Regions from separate parts of the Homo sapiens genome. Here regions 1, 3, 4 and 5 are each linked to region 2. The links come from fine-mapping of genetic effects on gene expression. A gene starts in region 2. Each other region holds a variant in brackets. All regions are shown on one strand. Distances are from middle to middle.

Region 1 (4,179 bases), 65 kb after region 2:
CTGCCTGGTGGGTTGACTTACGTAATTTCTCAATTTTAAGCACATGCACCTTAAGCGTGTTTTGTCAAGCAGAGAGAAAAATGGATCTGGCATTTAGTCCTACTGAGTCAGTAAAAGGTTTGGAACTAGAGGTAAAAGACCGAGCTCACCTGTTACACTCTCCAAAACTGCACGTGAAGAATCAAGATTGTGTCTCCACCAGCGTCAAGGATGGAAGAAAAACTTAAGGAGAAAAGCCTGCAAATGGCCAATCTGCAGGTGTTTCTCCTTTTTAATACTTTGAAAAACGAAGTTTCAAAGTTCACCATCCACCACCACTCATTTCCCTGTGTACAATTATGGGGGATACTGGGAGGGTGAAAAATGAATCGTTACGTTGTTCAGGAAGGTAAGTCTCAGACATGGGCTACCAGGGAGCTGTGCAGTCTGACCTCACTCAGTGAGAGAGAATGTGCACCAAAATGACATTATTTCAAGCAACAGCAATTTTTACTTCTTCATGCTTGTATGCATCTGCCATTTTTAATACATGAATACTGCCGTTGAAATTGATTGAATATGTCCAAGTTTTCAAGTAAAGCAAGGGTTAAAACAAAAACTAGATCTGCACATCTCACATCAGCACTGGATGGGGCAGCTGCTGCTAAGATGCGGCTGGTGTGAGACCGAGAAGGAGGAGCGTCTGGCTCCAGGTGCCGGCTGTGGGCAGGGTGGCCGTGCCCGGCGGGTGCACCCAGGGAGGTGCACAGCAGGGTAACTCGTGTGGTTTGCAGCACACGTGTTTGTCATCGAACATGCCTCTGCTTCTGTGTGTTCAGTTCTCCACTCAGCATTGGAGCCAGGAGAAATGAAGGTGGGACCCTCAGGAAAAAGCAAACCCACCCCCGGTGTTCACGCAAGAGTTGACACAGCTGCACCTGCTGCTGCCGTATGCTGATCCTAACCAGAAGCTGGCTGGGAGGAGAGGCCCCCTGGGCCATGAAGCAGAGCTCGGGAATGTGAGAAGTGGGGCTGAGGGCAAACGGGGTAGTGAAGGACCAGCACTGCCCACCCATAGCTGCTCTGTGTCCACAAGTAAGTCACACACTCAGACATCTTCCAACACAGTGCTGTACTCACACCACCCAACACAGGTGCTTTTACCTTCCCCAGAAACAGTAGAGACCCATGAGTCTTCCTCGCCACTAATGGTTTCTCTGGTACAGCCACAAACCCATCTGGACATTCTCTGACATGAAAAACTTAAGTTTCAAAGTTCACCATCTACCACCACTAATATTCCCTGTGTAAAATAGTGGGGATGCTGAGAAGTGGGAAAAGGAGTAATCAATTAACAAATGACTTGCATGCTCCCAGGCTCACGTGCACACACACATATGCACAACACGTTCACATCCACACATGCTCACACAATGATACACACATGCTCACATGCACTCATGCTGAGGCTTACACATGTACACACATGCTCACATGCACTCATGCTGAGGCTTACACATGTACACATGCTCACATGCACTCATGCTGAGGCTTACACGTACACACATGCTCACATGCACTCATGCTGAGGCTTACACATGTACACATGCTCACATACACTCATGCTGAGGCTTACACATGTACACACATGCTCACATGCACTCATGCTGAGGCTTACACATGTACACATGCTCACATGCACTCATGCTGAGGCTTACACATGTACACACATGCTAACATGCACTCATGCTGAGGCTTA[T/C]GCATGTACACACATGCTAACATGCACTCATGCTGAGGCTCACATGCACTCATGCTGAGGCTTACACGTACACACGTGCTCACATGCACTCATGCTGAGGCTTACACATGTACACACATGCTCACATGCACTCATGCTGAGGCTTACACATGTACACACGCTCACATGCACTCATGCTGAGGCTCACATGCACTCATGCTGAGGCTTACACATGTACACATGCTCACATGCACTCATGCTGAGGCTTACATATGTACACACATGCTCACATGCACTCATGCTGAGGCTTACACATGTACACATGCTCACATGCACTCATGCTGAGGCTTACATGTACACACATGCTCACATGCACTCATGCTGAGGCTTACACATGTACACACATGCTCACATGCACTCATGCTGAGGCTTACACATGTACACACGCTCACATGCACTCACGCTGAGGCTCACATGCACTCATGCTGAGGCTTACACATGTACACATGCTCACATGCACTCATGCTGAGGCTTACATATGTACACACATGCTCACATGCACTCATGCTGAGGCTTACACATGTACACATGCTCACATGCACTCATGCTGAGGCTTACATGTACACACATGCTCACATGCACTCATGCTGAGGCTTACACATGTACACACATGCTCATGAGCACATTCACATGCACGTCTTCATAGACACATTCACATGCATGCACATGCTCACACTAATGCACACACACTTATATGCTCCCACACATGCTCACACACACACAGCAAGCAAAGAGGACAGCCTGCATGCCCGGTACTGTCCTCATGCTGTGGCTAGCTGTGAGGCTGTGATCAGCAGCTACACCTTCCTTCTTCCACTACCCATTCCACGTTTTCTTGACCCTAAGCAGTACTTTGGATGGTCAGGGTTCTTTACCCAGTGAGAGGACTCAAATTTTCATTCCAGTGTGTCTGATGCAGTTGTCGTCTTGCCTTTATTAGTCACAATATTAGTCGTGAAAGCCCTGAGAAGTACCTAGAGAATCCACTGAGCTCCAAGATAGCCCTTTCATTGGGGTTAGCCATCCCCACCAAGACAGCATGCTTTTCTTGAACTATTAGCTAAGTGGCATGAGCAGCCCCAAATAGCTGATGACCGTCTGAACTTTCAGTGCAGCAGATGGATCACTGAGGTCCCAGGTAAGAGCATTCCAGCCTTGGGAACTAGGACCTTGAAAGCAAAAGAGCCCAATGTCACAGACGAGAAAAGCAAAAATATGTGAATGGGTTTATCAGCCCACCTGGGATCATTGATGCTGCGGTAACAAATGTAAACCAATAAAATGTCAGGGTCAGCTAAACAGATGTGGTCCTCGCCCGTCTCTCCCAGGCAGGTCAGCTGCAGCTCTGCTCCATGTCACCATCTGCATCCAGCCCAGCACAGCAGCCCCTCCTGGGACTCAGCCAGTCAGATGGCTTTGGGAAGAGGTGACAAGCAAGCCTGCCTAGATGCTATATCTGCTGCACAGACGCAGAATACAGCAGGCCCACTCCTGGTTCATTGGCCACAGTAAGCCATGTGGTCACAGCTGAATTCAACAGCCAGAGACGTACAGTCCTGCAAGGGAGCCCCTCAAAGGAGGTGAAGGATCTTCTGAACAGCAGCACCAGCCACCCTGCAGTAAGTGTTGGATGTGGTGGTGAGCAGGGCCAGTCCTAATTCCACCCATTGACATTACAGACATTATTCTGGCTATGAAATGGTGCCATGTCTTGGTCCACAGTTCGAGGCACTATGTCATCCATCAGGATGGCAGTCCAATGTTCTAGGGCACTGCCTCCCCATGGGCAGCACACCTAAAGCTTCAAGAAGTCATCCTCATGCTTAATCAGACTCGCCACCTCTGGGTGATGGGAAACGTAGGGATTCCAAGTGTGTACCTGTTCCCATGCTGCCTTTGCTGTAAAGTAAATTCCTTAACAATGCCATAGGAGGTGGGCAATAGTGAATAAGCCATTCATCAAGCCCACAGATGGTGCTGTCAGAAACACTGACAGCAAAGACATATCCATATCTGGAATAAGGGAAACTGAAACCAAGAGATACTCCCCTCAATGATGGAAGAGTCCAGTGTGATCAACCTGCCTCCAGGGGGCTGGCTAGTCCCTTTCCCAGGAATGGTACCTGGGGCTAAGTATGGGACCCTGCTTCCGACATGTTGGGAGTCCAGTGATAACTGCATCAGCCTAGGCTATTGTTGATGGGTCAGCTCTTTGTTATTGATCCACACTCATCTCCATCCCTATTTCCAGTGCCAGTTTGTGAATGGTTCTACTAGGTAAACACTGGGTTGGCTGGGAAAGAGACAGGCTGACATCCACTGCCTGTGTCATACCCTGGCAGAGACTATAGTAAATTAGACCCGACAAGAGAAAATATTAGTGAACCTGAAAATACAGCTAT
Region 2 (4,205 bases):
GAGGGACTCCTCTTTCCACCGACCTTGGCTCAAGGACAACCTGCTGACCCTGCTTAGATTGCCGGGCAGTATGAGGTTCTTCCCCCAGCCTCCCCACCTCCTTCCCTGGGTTCCAACTCACTTTGCACTCTGCAGGTTAAAGCAGAAGGAATTTATTCTCTCCCAGTCTGGAGGCCAGAAGCCTGCGATCATGGCACCCTAGGCCTAGGCTCCCTCTGAGAGCACTAGAGAGGACCTGCTCCAGGCCTCTCCAGCTCCTGGGAACTGCTTGCCTGTAGCAGCAGAACCCTGGCCTTCCCATGGAGCTCTCTCTGTGTCTGTCTCTGAGACCGAATCTCCCTCTCTATAGGGACACAAGCCATTTCAGACTAGGGCCCACCCTAATGACTTCCTCTTAACCTGATCATCTGCAAAGACCCTGTTTCCAAATAAGGTCGCGGCCACAGGTGCTGTGGGTTAGGACTTTTGCATCTTCTGGGGACACAGCCATGACTCTCTGGCAGCTCTCCCCATTGAATCTGGCTCTGCACCATCTCCAGCAGGTTTCCCCTCCGCCACACACCGCTTCCTGGCCTGTGCTTCTGGGAGGACCCCACTTTCATGGCTCTCCAAGTCCAGTCCTGAGGCTGCTCTCATCCCAGGACTGGGACACCCTAGGGCCCCTCCTCTCCAGAGCACTCAGGCAGCAGGTGGGGCCGCCTGGATCGCTGGGGTGCAGGTGCTGCCCTGTGGCTGGCAGGCTTTGTGTCCTGGGCTTTCTTGATGATCAGTTCGGTGAGGAGCCTTGGGTGGCCTCGGGTGCTGGGCTCTGGTTTTGGGGATCAGAGCAAGTGGCCACTAAAAGCCCAGGAGGTGGGTGCAACGCTGGTGGCTGGGCCACAGAGCCACCAATGCCCACCAGCACACAGGGCTCACCCCATCCCCGTGGGTGTGGCACTTGGGACAGGTGCTGCTGCTAGGCATGGGCTGGGACTCTTATGGGGCAGGAATATGGGCTGGGACTCTTATGGGGCAGGAATAAGGCCATGCAGCGGGTCTGGCCTGCCGGGGCCTTCTCTGTGCATGATATGTGGATGGCACAGACCCCTGGCCCTCACCCCGGTCTCAGACACAGAAGGGTCTCTGCCAGCCCGCTGCACTATGAGGTCCACAAGGGCGCAGGCAGGGTCATTGGAGGGGTCGGGGCACTCCCTGGCGTCTGCTGAGGATGGGGCCCAGCTGGGGCCAACACAGCAGTGACATCCCCAGGAGCCAGGACCCTGGGGGGTTGGCCAGGTGGCCCAAACCGGCTCTGTCTGGGTGAGGTCCGTTGGCCATGAAGGAACCAACAGGGCCAGCCGGGGTGAGGAAGCCGTGAGCACTGTGACCGAAGGCCTGCGTGAGTTCTGAAATCCAAGCGTGTTCACCCGGAGGCAGGAGCCCATCCTACTCTCGCTCCGGCTAATTATGGGCCCCACCCTGGGGCTCCTCACACGGCTCCTGAGCACCACAAGGGCAATGCCCGAGCCAAAGCAGCTACGGGTGAGAAAGCGCTGGGATCTCATCGCAGCCCCTGCACAACCAGCACGGACAGTCAGGGCCCCTATGTGCGCCTCCTGCCTGGGCCATCCCTGCGGGGCCTGAGGCCTGAGAGGTCCTGAGATCGGAGGGGTCCTGAGGTCTGAGGGGGTCCTGAGGCTTGAGGGGTCCTGAGATCTGAGGGGATCCCGAGGTCTGGGGGGTCCTAAGGTCGAGTGGACCTCAGGCGGGAGTCGCCTGGGCTGAGGCGCGGCTGGAAGAAGCTCCCTCAGCCCGGGGCAGCTTCCAGGGTCGCCGGTGCGAGCTAGGAGCCCAACGAATAAGAAGAATGGCGTGGGGCCTTCGCCGGAACAGCCCGGGGCTCGGCACCCAGGGCCTGGCCCGCCTTGCGCGTAAGCTGGACGCGTGCCCGCCCCTTCCTCCCTCCCCGCGAGCAGGCGGGCCGAGCGGCGGAAGGGGACGACGTGGCAGCCTCGCGGGCCCGGGGGACCTCCCTTTCTCCTGGCGCAGACCCTGCCGGGGATCCCTGTGCTCCAGTGGCTGCAGGAGGCGCCCCCGGTCCCCAGCGGCCCCGGCCCCCCACAGACCCCAGAGAAACCACCAGGTAGCGGAACTCCGGCTGGTGCCGCCCCTGCCGGCCGGCGGGAGGCGAGGCTTCCAGGGACGCCCCGCCCCGGCCGGCGCTCCCGCTCCGCCCACGTCACCTCCCGCGCCTGCGCGCCCGGCCCGCTCCAGCCGCCGCGCATCCTCGGCCCGCGCCCCGAGACCCGCGCCCAGCTAGCCCCGGCCCCGCTCGGCGCCCCAGGCAGCTCGGCTGCGCTCGCCGCGGGACGGCGCGGCCATGAGGCTGCGGGGATGCGGACCCCGGGCCGCCCCTGCCTCCAGCGCAGGGGCCAGCGACGCTCGGCTGCTGGCGCCCCCGGGGCGGAACCCCTTCGTGCACGAGCTGCGCCTCAGCGCCCTGCAGAAGGCCCAGGTGGGTGCCCAGGGCGCGCGGCCCCGGGAGCCGGCGCGGACGCCAGGGATGCTGGGGCCAGGGAGGCGCGGCCGAGGAGGGGCCGGGGAGGGGGCCTGGGGCGCGGCGCGGCCCTGCGAGCCGCGGCGCCTTCCCTCCCCGCGGCCGCCCCTCAGTTCGCGTCCCCGCCGCCCGCACCCGATGCCTCGGTCTCGGCGCCGGCTTCCCGCCGCCCGCACGCGCATCCTGGTCCCTCAGCGCCTTCCTCGGGGTCCCCGCTTCCCATCCCCGCCCCGCGTTCTGCTCCTCCCCCCAGACCCCTGCACCCTGAACCGGGCCCACAACCCTTTCTCTGCCTCCCAGAGCCCCGACCTCGGCTCCCGCGGGAGGCTGGACCCGCATCGCCGGTCCCCGCGCTCGTCCCTGGTCCGGGCCCCGCCCGCCTTGGCAGGCCCTGCGCGCAGCCCGGGGACTCCGGAGCGGCTTTGCCTGGACGCGGCCCGCGGGCGGGAGGGCACCGCGGCTCTGGGTGAGCCTCGTGTGCGGGGCCTGGTGGTGCCCGGGACAGGGCGCGCGGGCGGTGCGGGTCCCCTGTAGGGTCCCCTGTAGGCGCACGGGTCTCCCTGCTCTGCGGCCGCACGTTGCCTTCTGGGGTGCATGCTTCGCTCCTGTTGTAAGGGATGCTTTCTCGGGGCTGGTCTGACCCGAATCAACTTTATGCAACCTGGGCTGCCACGTGGGAGGGAACGGTTTGCTGAGATCCTGCGATGGGACAGTGGTGAGGGGAGACCCGGGGGCGTCGTGGGGAGGGGGCCGCTCGCTGCAGGAAGCTGCACCGGGGATGTGCTGGCTCAGCCTGGCTTTTCCGGCTACCTGGCTGCCAGCTGGGCTTACAGTTACCTGAGATCCACTCTCAAGAGGACCTTACTTTTGACTCTAGAATAATTCCTAGAAGCAAGCACTGTTTCGGGGCCTATGGGGCTGTCCGGTTTGTAGGGAGCACGCTTCCAATTGTGAGAATAGATTTCCGGGAAGATGGAGATTTGTTAATGCATAAAGTACTTTATCTGAAAGAACCCTGAAGTGAAAAGTTCTTGAGGCCAGTTTGAGCTTGTCATTTTCCCAGGACGCCTGCTTTTGCTCAAAGCCCCTTGATGCGGCTGGTCCTCAGGGTATGGAAGGGGACGGGGAGCAGGAGAGCCCGATGGTGCCGCCCCTCCTGGTGACACACAGGGTGAGGTCGTCCCCAGCCTGGCTCCCAGGCCCTGGCCCCCGTCTCCCTGTGTGTCGGGAGCTGGACTCTGGGGCTGGGGCGGTGCCGGCCCCTCTGCCGCCGCTCTGCCTGGCCCTCTGTCTGCCACACGCTGTCAGCTGCCGTGTGCTGTGCCCCTCAAAGGAGGACTTGGGACACGGTCGCTCATTCTGTGCCCCTCAACCATTCCTCCTCTTCAATCCTCACCCCCACCCAGCCACCAGGCTCTCTCCCTGGTCACTCTCCCTGAGTCACTCCCAGCAGGCTTTCTTCCTCCTGCACTCTGCTGCTCGGAAGCCCTCAGCGGGGACGCCCCCGGATGAAATTCGAACCCCTGCTGTGGTTTCCAGGGCTTCCCCAGCCCTGCTCCTGCCCCAGCTATGGCTGCCTCAGGCATGCTCTCTCTTCCTGCCTTTCCTACTCCCTCCTGGCTCCCTGGGGGGAAACATCAAGCCCCTCCCTGGAGGTCCCCGGAGGCCA
Region 3 (4,000 bases), 23 kb after region 2:
TGGCGGGATAACAGATTTGTGGTTGCTTGGTGCAGCGAGTGTGATGCTGAAGCGGGGACCCAGCTGGGGTGAGGAGCAGCCCCCAGAAGCGGGGAAGGGGAGGCAAATTAGAGGTCGTCATCTCTCGCAAACCAAACATCATCTAGATCTGCGTACCCAACAGGCTGACCTGACCACTGGGCACTGACAGGGTGGAGACACAGGTGGCATAAAGCTGTGAGAGTGAAATGCACACTGCACAATCCAAGACAGCGGGAGAAAATGCAAACTAGCCAGTAGCAACTTCTACGTTGAGTACGTGTCGAAATGGTATTTCAGATATACCGGGCGAAATGAGCTGTATATTAAATTGTCATTCCCTTTAAATGTGGCCACTCGAAAATTTAAAATGACACATGTGGCAGGCATGTTTCTCTTGGGCTATGCTGGTCTCCGTTGAGAACTCAAAAGAATCTAGGGACAAACCAAGGAAACAGAGTGGGAGCGCTCTCATGACAGGCATCAGAAATTAGGGATGGCTGCTGCTTGGGGAGCCAACTGCGATCTGTGTCTCCTGGGTCTTTTCTGTCTCTGCACTAAACCTGCACCTCAGGACTGGTGTTTCCCCTCACCCAAAGCCTCCCGCCCCTCTACACGGAGTCCTGCCCGCCTCCCGGAGGGACCTCCATCCTCAGACCCTGGGCTGCCTGGGATCCCGCAGCCTCGGCCTTCCCTGGCGTGGGGGCCTGCCCTGGCTTGGGGGGCCTTCCTGAGCCCCCATATTGACCTGCGCCCCTGCCCTCCCGCCAGTTCACTCTCCTGCGCCGGGTCTTCCATTGACTGGAAAGTCACACCTTCATTCTGCCGTCTTCTCTGTGGTCTGAGGTCCAACCTTGCAAACTGCAGGCCAGCTACCTCCCCCTGTCACCAACACTGCCTAGGGTGGCGTATGCTTTCTCATGTCCACATAAACGATTTCAGGGGAAACTGCTGAGTGAGGCCTGCGGGGCTGGGGGTGTGTCCTGGGGGGCGGAGCTGCCTGGGGGTGCGTCCTGCGGGGTGGAGCTGCCTGGGGTTGTGTGCTGTGCGTCAGAGTGGCCCTTGAATTTGCAGGAGGAAGCTCCACTGTGTCTTTCCCAAGCCACTCGCATGGCAGCTCCAGTAAGGAGGCAGGAAGCGGGCAGTGGGTGTGGAGCATGTCAGTTAGCACTGGCCAGTGTCCACAGCCATGGTGAGGGCTGGTCGGCATCAGCACCGGTCAGCCTTGGTCAGTGCCGGTCAATGTTGGTCAGCCTTGGTCAGTGCCAGTCAGTGTTGGTCAGCCTTGGTCAGTGCCGGTCAGCCTTGGTCAGTGTCGGTCAGTGTTGGTCAGCCTTGGTCAGCACCGGTCAGCCTTGGTCAGTGCCGGTCAATGTTGGTCAGCCTTGGTCAGTGCCGGTCAGCCTTGGTCAGTGCTGGTCAGTGTTGGTTAGCCTTGGTCAGCGCCGGTCAGCACTGGTCAGCCTCGGTCAGCCTTGGTCAGCCTCGGTCAGTGCTGGTCAGCCTTGGTCAGCTGTGTGCCAGCTGCAGCCCCTCCCCAGCTCTCCACTCTGTGGGGCGCGCTGTCCCCCTGGGCTAGCCTCTGCCGGGTGGGGAGCTGCCTGGTGTCCTACATGGATTCTCTGGATAATGCCCCCCTCTGTCTGCAGGTGGCCCTCATGACACTGACGCTCTTCCCGGTCCGGCTCCTGGTTGCCGCTGCCATGATGCTGCTGGCCTGGCCCCTCGCACTTGTCGCATCCCTGGGCTCTGCGGAGAAGGAACCCGAGCAGCCCCCGGCCCTGTGGAGGAAGTAAGTTGCGCGTGTGCCGTGCTCTCCTCCTGGGGGGGGGTCACGCGGCCA[A/G]ACAGTGGGAACCCATTCTCACAGTGGGGTTGTGTGTCTCCACCCTAGCCCATCTGTCCTTCCCTTCTGAGCCCAGCGTCCACCAGGGCTGCCCCCTGCCAGTGGGGACTCGGCCACCTCCCCGTTGCCTCTGTCTTCCACGCCTCCGCCACAGTCCTGCTCTGAGGCTTCATTTTCCAGGGGTCTGCAGGATGTGTGGCCATTGTTTCACACCCTTGAGCACAGAGACCCCCCTACACCGTAGCCTTCTCTGCTCCAGAACCTGCTGGGGCTCCCTGTTGCTGACGAAAGTCAGGCTTCTGGACACCCTCTCCTGGCTTTGTGACTGCCAGCCCCCTTACCCCTCCCACCTCAGACCCTCAGCTCTGGCCCTGCCCATGGTGGCCTCCCCCAGACCCTCAGGCTGTGAGTGGACGGCCTCTTGGGCTGCAGTGACAGGGCACCACAGTGACACAGGCCTCCTGCCTAGGGAGGTCCCTGCCTCAGTGGCCCCCATGCAGAGGCAGCTGGACCTGGTGCGGGTGCCGTGGGCCCGGGAGGGGCCATCTTCCAGGTGTGAGAGCAGCAGCAATGAGGGGAACGGCTGCTCGGGGGGCAGGTGGCCACCATGGCATCTCCTGCCAACCTGGTCTTATTAAAATTGGGCTAAGTGGGAACAGGTTGCCGCATCATAAAGGCCCAGTGACTTGACATCAAAATCCCCATTTCTGGCCAGTCTTGGAAAAGCAGAAGCTCCGGCCAGTGGGCCTGCTCCCCAGGGCCAGCAACTGGCTGGAGCCAGGCCCAGCCCTGCCTTCGGACAGGAGGCTCGGGTCCTTCCCCGCCCTCCGAGACTGCATGTCAGCCAACGTTGGCCTGGCCTGCTGCCTGCTGGCACCACCCCTCCAGGGCCGTCTTTCCCTTGCTTTGTGGACCTAAACTCTTCCTGGCTTTTAAGCACGGAATATAAATAAAGCACACCTACCCGATGAGGAATACATCTAAACTAAAGATCCAAAACAGACCACAAAAAATTAAACTAAATCACAATATTTTCTTGTTTCATTTAAATTCCTAAAGCTGTGCTTTCACTGAAAGTATCTGCCATTAGCAAATGAAAATGTTGAGATATCATAAATACTTTGATAAATATTTTCAGTATCTTAAAAGTTACCACGCGTGTCCTATAACCACAGCTCTGACAACCCTTCCATGTGTTGTTAACATCTCTCATCATTCTGGAGGGGCTCCCTGAATCTTTTATTCAGAAACAGGAATATTAGTAGTTAATTGGAGGCTGCTGCCTGACTATAAGTAAAGTTTTACTGGAGCACGGGCACGCCCGCTGGCCTGCGTGATGTTCAGGGCTGCATTGGTGGGGAACCGGGCCAAGTGGTTGGGACAGAGGCCGTGTGGCTGTAGAGCCTAAAGCATTCACTGCCTGGCCTCCGAAAGGTGTAATGGGCACGCCCAGGCCCCTCCTTTCTCTGGAAGGTGTCTGATCTGTGGGCTGTATGTACAGCAAAGTTTTCACGGCCAAGAGGCTGATGGGAGCTGACATCTGCCTGAGCTTCGGTTCTCCTTGATACCCAGGGCCACACTCAGACATGCAGTTAGGTGCAGGGGGAAGACGGCCACTTAGGGTCCCGGGTTTGCCGCACCGTTGCGTGCAGACATGGTGCAGTCATAGGAGAGGGCAGCCTGGGCGTTGGGGGTCCCTCACTCTGGGCCCTGCTGAGTGGGTGGACGTTGAGCAGCTTGCTGGGTAGTGGTGACCTGGGGCAGCCTGGGTTCTTTAGGGGCAACAGGATCATCACGGGCTTTAGTTCTTCATTTAGCCTTTCTAGATTTTTAAAATTCTCTTATGCTTTATCTTGGTTTGTTTTTGAAACGTTTTAACCATAAAATAGGAATTGGGTATCAAATATATAACCAAGCAAAGTAAATCAAGGCCAAATCAAAGTCAGGCTTTCAGTTTTGCTGAGTTGAGAAGCCACAGCTAGAAAGTGGGGGTTCTGTAGTGTGAAGCAGGCTGCAGGTGACCTGGCTGAATGTGGTGCTGTGGGCAGCAATGGCTTCGTGGTGCTTTCCTGGCACCCTTTCTCTTTACTCCCCATGTCCTTGTTGGGCCGAGCTCCCCGCCTCCTCTGTTCTGTCTCA
Region 4 (4,000 bases), 46 kb after region 2:
CCAAATGTCTCCCATGTCAACTCCTGCGGCAAAGGCATGGTGATCCTGGTTCTGAGGTTGGGAACTCTGGATCCAGGCTGGAGGGGTGGCATGACTCAGGGCCTGTGCTGCCTGGGGACAGCGAGGAGGGACAGGTGTGGAGGGACAGGTGTGGGCTGTACGAGGTCTCCTGAGCTGGAGAACAAGCAGGAGATGGTGTCTTGCTAGACGAACCAAGGACATAAGCAGGTGTTGAATCGGAAAAGCAGCATTTCCACCCACGGCTGTACGTCACACTGGGGCTCGGGCTGGGTGGGCACGGCACCCCCTCCGTGGGAGCGTTGACTGCCCAGTAGCGCCCTCTGGAGGGCGCGTCTGGAGGTTTCACCCCAGAATTGGGAGTAATTTACTTGTTAACCCGAGTTGTAAATCTGCTCAACATTGTGCAATCTGTTTTTAAGGCTGGAAATCCTGTGGCTCACGCTGTGTCAGTTTCACAACCAAGTGGAAATCGAGGTTCGTATGGATACAGAGTTACACAGCGCTCTTCACAGTGGTTGATGCAGACACGAGCTTACACCAGGATGCCCAGATAAGCCTTGTACAATGTGGCATATCACCTGTCTTGCTTTCCCATCTTTCCGTTTCTCAGGGCTCCTTCGAGGAGCCTCTGGTTGCTTTACCTCAATGACTTTATGTCTCTCTTATGAGTCTGAACCACTTGGATAAGATTTGGGTTTTTGTTTTTTGTTTTTCTGAGACAGCATTTTGTCTTGCTCTGTTGCCCAGGCTGGAGTGTAGCGATGGGCTCACTGCAGCCTCGACCTCCTGGGCCCAAGTGATCTCCCTGCCTCAGCCTCCCACGTAATTGGACCACAGGCACACGCCATGCCTAGCTAATTTTTGTAGAGATGGGTCTCACTTTGTTGCCTAGGCTGGTCTCAAACTCCTGGGCTCAAGCAGTCCTCCCGCCTTGGCCTCCTAAAGTGCGGGGATCACAGGCGTGAACTACCACACCCAGCTGGAAAGGATTTTTTAAACCTACCATTCATTATTATGGGTATTGTAGCTTAAGGACATATGAAGCTGGCCCACATGCAAATAATTATTTGTTTGGCTCTTAGTTTTACTTTACATATTTAATACCGCTGAGTTTGTCATAGCACCATGCTCTGTTTAATACATAGTCAAAGATCCCCCTTCTCAGCCTGACCCAGGTCTCCAGAGTCAAGACCTTGGGCTAAATAGTCACCTCTGTGTAGCCTGCACAATTTTTTCTAAGTCGATGAGGAGTAGTTCTTTTTTTGTTTAAAAGGGGAATTAATATGCACTTCTTGCATCTGGAAATAAAAGATGAGTCACATGCAACTTAAATATTTAATAAAACAATTTGCTGCCTTCCAGTAAATATTGGAGAGCACTACGAAATATACTGATAAGCCCGGCTTTCAGCCCGGCTGTTCACTTCCATAGAGGATAAGCTGCTCTCATTACAGAGGACTGGGCTGAAGGGCCTTGGCCCGGGCCTGAGGGCGGCAGTTCCCCCACCCAGCAGGATTATGTGGCTGGATGGGCAGTGGCCGGGAGGGTGCAGGCCAGGCCTCGAGCACAGAACACAGGGACTGAGCTTGAGCTCCTGAGGGCTCCCTGGTGTTGAATGGCTGTGTTACAGGCCTGGTTTCTAATTTTAAGAGTTGAAAAGAAAGTGAATGGCTGTGCAAAACTGCTCTGTCCTTACTGACGTTGTTCATACAAGATGCAAATGTTGATGCAAGGAACCATGGCAGTTTACGGAAGTTTTAGAAATAACAGCGAGAATTGGGGTTTCAGGATGTTCCTGTATTCTGAAATATTCC[G/A]TATTAGAGAAAAGGACATCCAGGGTAGTCTTGTGCCCTTTCCTGCACGGTGTGCAATGTGGGTCATATTCATTTAAAATGCTGTGTAAGTGTCACTCAGGCAAGGACAAATTCACTGGACAATTTCTTTTAGTTTCAAAATGCAAGAGGTGGCAAAACGCTGCCAATAATCTGTTCCAAATGTAGGAATAACGTGCTGCATTATCCCCATTACAAAACTGATGCTGTCAGAAATGGGCGTAAGCCCCTCTGTGAGATCAGGGAGCTGGATGTTCTGATGTAGGCAGCAGGAGCTCCTAGGAGCACTGACGGGGGTGAGTGTAGATCAGAGAGCCAGATGTTCTGATGTAGGCAGCAGGCGCTCCCAGGAGCACTGACGGGGGTGAGTGTAGATCAGAGAGCCAGATGTTCTGATGTAGGCAGCAGGCGCTCCCAGGAGCACTGACGGGGGTGAGTGTAGATCAGAGAGCCAGATGTTCTGATGTAGGCAGCAGGCGCTCCCAGGAGCACTGACGGGGGTGAGTGTAGATCAGAGAGCCAGATGTTCTGATGTAGGCAGCAGGTGCTCCCAGGGAGCACCAATGAGGGTGAGTGTTCAGGTGCACACGTGTGCAGTTCATGCATCATGGGGGTGTGTGTGTGCGTACACACACGTGCACATGACAACTTTGAAGACGGTTCTAATGGGCGTTACTTTGACAGATCTTAATTTTGTCAGCCTCCCAGTTGTCGTTACAGTGGTGTTGCTGAGGTCAGCGTCTTGTGATACTAACGCAGCTTCTCTGTGTGCTCAGTTCCTTCCTGTGTACAGCCCTTCTGAGGAGGAGAAGAGGAACCCCGCGCTGTATGCCAGCAACGTGCGGCGAGTCATGGCCGAGTAAGTGAGCAGCTCCTTCCCCCATCGCCGAGTCAGGGGTGTCTCCCAGAGTGCTGCTCTCTGTATATTTAAAATAGGCAACAGCGTTAGGAAAAGGCATTCTTGCAGAAGTGCGGGAACCAGCTTCATGCATGTTGGTGAAGCGTGCTTGGCCTTGTGCTGTGCGCCCCTTGTTTCCCTCTGATGGCATTTCACCCTCTTTGACGTTGGGAAGATGCATGACTGGTTCTTCCAGACCTGCCTGCAGCCGTTGGTCACCCCAGGTCCTATGTTTCCTGTGCCCTAAATGAGCCAGCGGGGCGCTGGCCTGGGCCAACTTCACATCTGTGCGGCGGCCTCCACGCCTACCTTTGCTCATCTGCCTGTGTGATACTTACCGGTGCCCTTACTCTATCTGGCAGAGTGGAGTGGTGGTTGCACATTTAATCTTGTAAGGTGACTTGTGCTGCTTACACAGTTGTCGTGCATGCAGTTAGGAAGAGGGAATGTCCTCGCTTCCCATGGTCCCAGGTCCCCTGCTTGCATGGCCGGCAGTGCTGTCGGCTCACACGCCCTCCCCCTCTCCCTCCCTCGGTGTCGTCAGCTCACACGCCCTCCCCATCTCCCTCCCTCAGCACCTTCCATCCCTCAGGTCCCATTCCCCCCACACTTGTCCTTGCAACCAGGTCCTCCCACCTGGATTTACCCCCACGTGAATGCCTCCCTAGTGCTTCCTCCTGCAAAGCTCTGTCCAGTGGAGCTAGAGCCTCCCCTCCACCGGGCGGCTGCCAGACCTGAGCTGCAGGAGCCACTTGGAAGCCACATCAGCCTCGGTCCACCGGCCCCACCCCCAGGCTCCTGCTGCAGCAGGTCGGGGCATGGCTGGGAACTCGCCTCTCCAGAGAGCCCAGAGGGGAACACAGCCACGGCCGGGCCCATCAGAGTGTGCCTGGCTCTGACCTCCGAGCCACTTTGTTCACACTCCGCTGACACCCTGAAGATTCAGCTGGGCGGCCCGTTCCCTCACGTTCCCATCCTCTCCCTCCCAAAGCATGTGTCCGAGGGTAGAAATGGGCCCGGCAGTCTCTGTCCCGCAAAGCTCCACTCAACCCCCACCACAGGCAGCTCTGAACAATACAAAAAGCTGAGTAGGCGCCGAGCCAGGGGAATGCATTCCCACCTCCAAGCCCAGCACCTGTGCTCCGGACTGCTGCCAATACTGGCTACTTTTGGGGACTTAGGAGGAAGAGAACAGATTTTACAGCGCTCAAGGAGAGATCGCCTGTGGGCCTCACTGATTATTTTAGAA
Region 5 (4,000 bases), 29 kb after region 2:
CACCGGCCTGGCACCGTAGCCAGCACTCAGGCTGTGTACATGTGTATAGGTCCTCTCCAGGGCCGGCTCCACTCTGCCTCTTGCCTCTGCTCACAGCAGAACATTTGGAACCTGCAGAGCCGGGGCCTGCGCCTGCCCCTCACGCTTAGACGTGTGGGCTTCCCCCACCCACCTCCACATGCCAGCTGGCTTGAGGAGATGCAGGCCTCAGCGGCCTTCCTCCTTTTCCCCCTGCATGTTCTGGGAGATTTCCTCCTCCTCATTTCCCAGTCTTTCCTGTGAGTTGCTTGTCTCCACAGTGACAGTCTTGGTTTCTGAGAGTGTTTTCTTGTTCTTTGATGCTCCTCAGCGCCCTGTTCTTCCAGACTCTCTTGGCGAGCGTGGTGGATGTTTTGCACCCCTCTTCTGATGCCCACCCTTTCTGTCTCCTTGGGGTCAGTCCTCTGCTTCTCTGCCATGCAGCTGCTCTGCTCACACGTCTCAGGATTCTTGGGTGTCGTCCGTGTGAGGGCGGTAGGACGGAGTGGATTTCCTGGGGGTGCTGATGGAGATCCCCGCTCCTGTGTATGCAGATAGATCTGTCTCCTGATTCACATTCCCCTGGGAATGGGCTGCCCAGGCACCTGAGCACCCTGGGCTTGTGCTGGCTCCCTTTGCCTTGGGGTGAGTGGGTGCTGGGTCCCCAACCCCACAGCAAGCGGAGCTTTTCTCTGAGGCTGTCATCCACACCAGCAGTCCGGGTTTTCACATGTGGATAGTTTGGGTATAAAATTCCTCCAAGATCTTTAGAGAAGAGCTGAGGCTGCTTTTTCCCTGCCCCGACACCCAGTACAGTTCCCCTGAGCACCGTCTGTCCCTGCAATTCGATTTCGGGGCTGGCAGGTGTGTTCCTCTAAGGGCCGCCCGGGTTTTAATCCCTTTTTTCCTGCTGTCCTCTCTCCTGCCCCTGAACCTGCCCGAGACTGGCTCCTGTGCCCGCCGCAGCCTCCTCTGCAGCCTCGCTTCTCCCTCCGCCGCTGCCTTGTTTCTTCCATCTTAGGCATCAATTGCTGTCTTTTGGCTTTTGTTTTTGTACTTTTTTTTTTTTTTTGTGGAAAATAACATGTGCACAGAAGAGTACATCTTTATTTTTTAGTTTAGTTTTCTTGAGATGGAGTCTCACTCTGTTGCCCAGGCTGGAGTGCAGTGGCGCAATCTCGGCTCACTGCAACCTCCGCCCCTTGGGTTCAAGCAGTTCTCCTGCCTCAGCCTCCTGAGTGGCTGGGATTACAGACGCCTGCCACCATGCCCAGCTAATTTTTGTATTTTTAGTAGAGACAGGGTTTCACCATGTTGGCCAGGCTGGTCTTGAGCTCCTGACCTCAAGTGATCCACCTGCCTTGGCCTCCCAAAGTGCTGTGATTACAGGCGTGAGCCACCATGCCTGGCCAGAAAAGTACATTTTTAAATATGCAGCTGAACAGGTGGTGAAGAAGTGCACACCTGTGTAATCCCCCCTCCTCTAGACAAGCAGCACCCTGGGTTGGTCCCCAGCATCTCCATGTGTAACTACACCATTGTTTATCATCGCATACACAAAGGCCATTCCAAGGTGGCCCCACGAGAGGAGGCTTTGTGCCCTCCTAGCAACCGCCTTGGCTCAGATCCATGGGGACCCCTGTCCTGGAAGTCTTCTGGGAGGATCATCTGTCCCAGGGCAATGTGAATCCAGTAAGGCTTCAGGCTCTTGTTTCTCTGTGCAGTAGTTTTACCCAGTGTGATGCGCCCACTTAACCCAGTGGCCGAGTGAGCCGTGGCTTCTCATGAGGCTGAATCATGTTCTCTGTGTGCCTGACCTGTGGCTTCTCACACACCGTGGC[T/C]GTCTGCTGCGTGTCAATTCCCTGAGGTGTGGAATAACAGCCTAATCTGTAGCCTCATATGAAAGAGAATACACACATTTAAAAGGCTAAATTTGTACCTATTTTAAAAAGAGATAAAGAGTACACAAATTCAGTTAACCTAGGCTGATTTTTACTTTATTTTCCAAATTTATTGGCCATCTAATTTCCTCCAGAAACAGCTCACTGTAATAACACAACGCCTGGTTGTGGGAACCCCGGGCTTCCTGTGGAGATGAGATGGGGAAGTTCGCACGCAGGTCTCAGCTTCCGCCCTCAGCTCTGAGCGCCCCCCCCCCCATATTGCGATATGCGTTTTAGGTGTTTTAATGTTTTTCCCATTTCAAAATGATAGGATGCTGATAAATAAGTTGCTAACATGAAGGTCCGGAGGTCTTCTGGCCTGGGACTTGTGCTGTCTGTGTTCCGGAGTCTCATGTTGTCTTAGCACTGCCTGCCGCGTGGCCCGTGACCACCACACAGGGCCCCGCGGCCTCCTTCGTAGGTGAGAGCGCAGCCAGCGAGGACACAGGCGGAGGCCAGGAAGGCGCGGCGTCTTTTCTTCCCTCAAGCAGATGTCCCAGCGGCGGCGACCACAGGAAGCCCGTGGCCTGGACTGCGCCCTGGAGGGCTCTCCCGTGGGACCGCCCCTGTGCCTCACACAGACTCCGAGACTGCGGACGTGTGCCCGCGTGACGCAGCGCCCTCTTTTGCAGGGTTGTGGACTTCCTGCTGAAGGCCATCATGCGCACCATGTGGTTCGCCGGCGGCTTCCACCGGGTGGCCGTGAAGGGGCGGCAGGCGCTGCCCACCGAGGCGGCCATCCTCACGCTCGCGCCTCACTCGTCCTACTTCGACGCCATCCCTGTGACCATGACGATGTCCTCCATCGTGATGAAGGCAGAGAGCAGAGACATCCCGATCTGGGGAAGTGAGTGAGACACCCCTGCTGGGAGTGAGGGACCCTGCCCTGCTGGGAGTGAGAGATCCCCCTGCTGCTGAGAATAAGAGATTCCCCTCCTGCTGGGAGTGAGGGTCCCCCCTCTGTTGGGAATGAGTGAGACCCCCTCTGTTGCTGGCAATGAGGGACTCCCTGCTGGTTTTTAGGGACCCCCCCTTCTGGGAATGAGAGATCCCTCCCTGCTAGGAATGAGGGACCCCCACTTGCTGGAAATGAGTGAGACCCTCCCTACCGGGAGTGAGGGACCCCCCCCCCACCACGCTGCTGGGAGTGATCGAGCCCCCACCGCCGGGCACATTGGCCTTGTGCCCCATTTTCTGTGTTGGGGTTTCCTGTGTAATTTTCGTTGTTGTAATTGTTATTTTTATTGCTACCTGAGTGCCCTCACTATCATAACAGGCTACAGTGCTTGCTCCAGGTCTGCTTGGCAAGGGTGGCTCACCTTTATCAGATGGCAGTTCTGGAAGTCTTTGGGAGCAGGTCGGCAGGGCTGCCCATGCACCGCGGCTGTGCCGTGAACCAGGGACCTGAGCACCTGGTGCTGCCATGACCCCTCCCCAAAGCCGGGGGCTCACTCCAGCAGAGATTCACCCTCTCGTCATCTGGGGACCAGATGTTCAAAATCAAGGCGTCTCTGGGCCGAAGGCCCTGTGCGGCCCCTTCCTGCCTCTTCCTCCTCTGGGGGCTGCGTCCCTCTGACTCTGCCTCAGTGGTCGACTGGCCTGGCTCCCTCCAAGTGTCTCCTCTATGAGTCTCTTATAAGGACCAGTCATTGGGTGATCCAGGATGCTCTCATCTTGAGATCCTTAACGAGTTACCTCTGTAAAAACCTTTTTCCAAATAAGGCCTCATTCACAGGTTCCAGGGTCAGCATGTGGACCCATCTTTGGGGGCCGCATCCCATGGACCCACTGCTCTGGGAGGACTGTAGGGAGCCCTGCGTGGCCCCTCACCCACCTGTGCGCAGCCCTGACCCACCAGAGCTCTGTCCTCGGTGCTCTTCAGGGCATCTGGGCCCGTTCTGTCCTCGTGCTTCCTTCACAGCCGCCATCAGCACAGCACAGCACGTTCTGGGGCACAGCGGGTCCTGGGTTGGCAGTGGGCGGTGCTGAGGGAAGGAGCTGCTGGGACGAGGGGCGTCGCCTATGGCCGGGGCCCTCAC

What was found.
Region 1: its variant is fine-mapped to the expression of LPCAT1 in whole blood (TOPMed, PIP 0.92).
Region 3: its variant is fine-mapped to the expression of LPCAT1 in whole blood (TOPMed, PIP above 0.99). The same link has a PIP of 0.9 or more in T cells and activated CD8 T cells.
Region 4: its variant is fine-mapped to the expression of LPCAT1 in whole blood (TOPMed, PIP above 0.99).
Region 5: its variant is fine-mapped to the expression of LPCAT1 in testis (GTEx, PIP above 0.99).

What each region holds. Positions count from the first base shown.
Region 1 is chr5:1,457,018-1,461,196 of GRCh38, reverse strand. No RefSeq gene overlaps it. Among named protein-coding and RNA genes, the nearest start is that of SLC6A3, 14 kb to the right of the region's middle. RefSeq lists an enhancer at 4,130-4,179. The variant T/C (reference allele first, on the strand shown) is at 1,739.
Region 2 is chr5:1,521,999-1,526,203 of GRCh38, reverse strand. LPCAT1 (lysophosphatidylcholine acyltransferase 1) reads left to right here and starts at 2,244. Exons shown (of 14, transcript NM_024830.5): 1 at 2,244-2,494. The coding sequence starts at 2,360. RefSeq lists a cis regulatory region at 852-1,087 and silencers at 1,857-2,256, 2,277-2,586, 2,857-3,056.
Region 3 is chr5:1,499,271-1,503,270 of GRCh38, reverse strand. It overlaps LPCAT1 (lysophosphatidylcholine acyltransferase 1), which reads left to right. Exons shown (of 14, transcript NM_024830.5): 2 at 1,668-1,810. Among named protein-coding and RNA genes, the nearest start is that of MIR6075, 9.6 kb to the left of the region's middle. RefSeq lists enhancers at 348-1,238, 1,239-2,129, 2,130-3,021. The variant A/G (reference allele first, on the strand shown) is at 1,862.
Region 4 is chr5:1,476,116-1,480,115 of GRCh38, reverse strand. It overlaps LPCAT1 (lysophosphatidylcholine acyltransferase 1), which reads left to right. Exons shown (of 14, transcript NM_024830.5): 8 at 441-495; 9 at 2,630-2,712. Among named protein-coding and RNA genes, the nearest start is that of SLC6A3, 33 kb to the right of the region's middle. The variant G/A (reference allele first, on the strand shown) is at 1,836.
Region 5 is chr5:1,493,508-1,497,507 of GRCh38, reverse strand. LPCAT1 (lysophosphatidylcholine acyltransferase 1) reads left to right here. Exons shown (of 14, transcript NM_024830.5): 3 at 2,594-2,808. LOC124901162 (a long non-coding RNA gene) reads right to left here. Exons shown (of 2, transcript XR_007059103.1): 2 at 1,989-4,000. Among named protein-coding and RNA genes, the nearest start is that of MIR6075, 15 kb to the left of the region's middle. RefSeq lists an enhancer at 2,372-3,571. The variant T/C (reference allele first, on the strand shown) is at 1,860.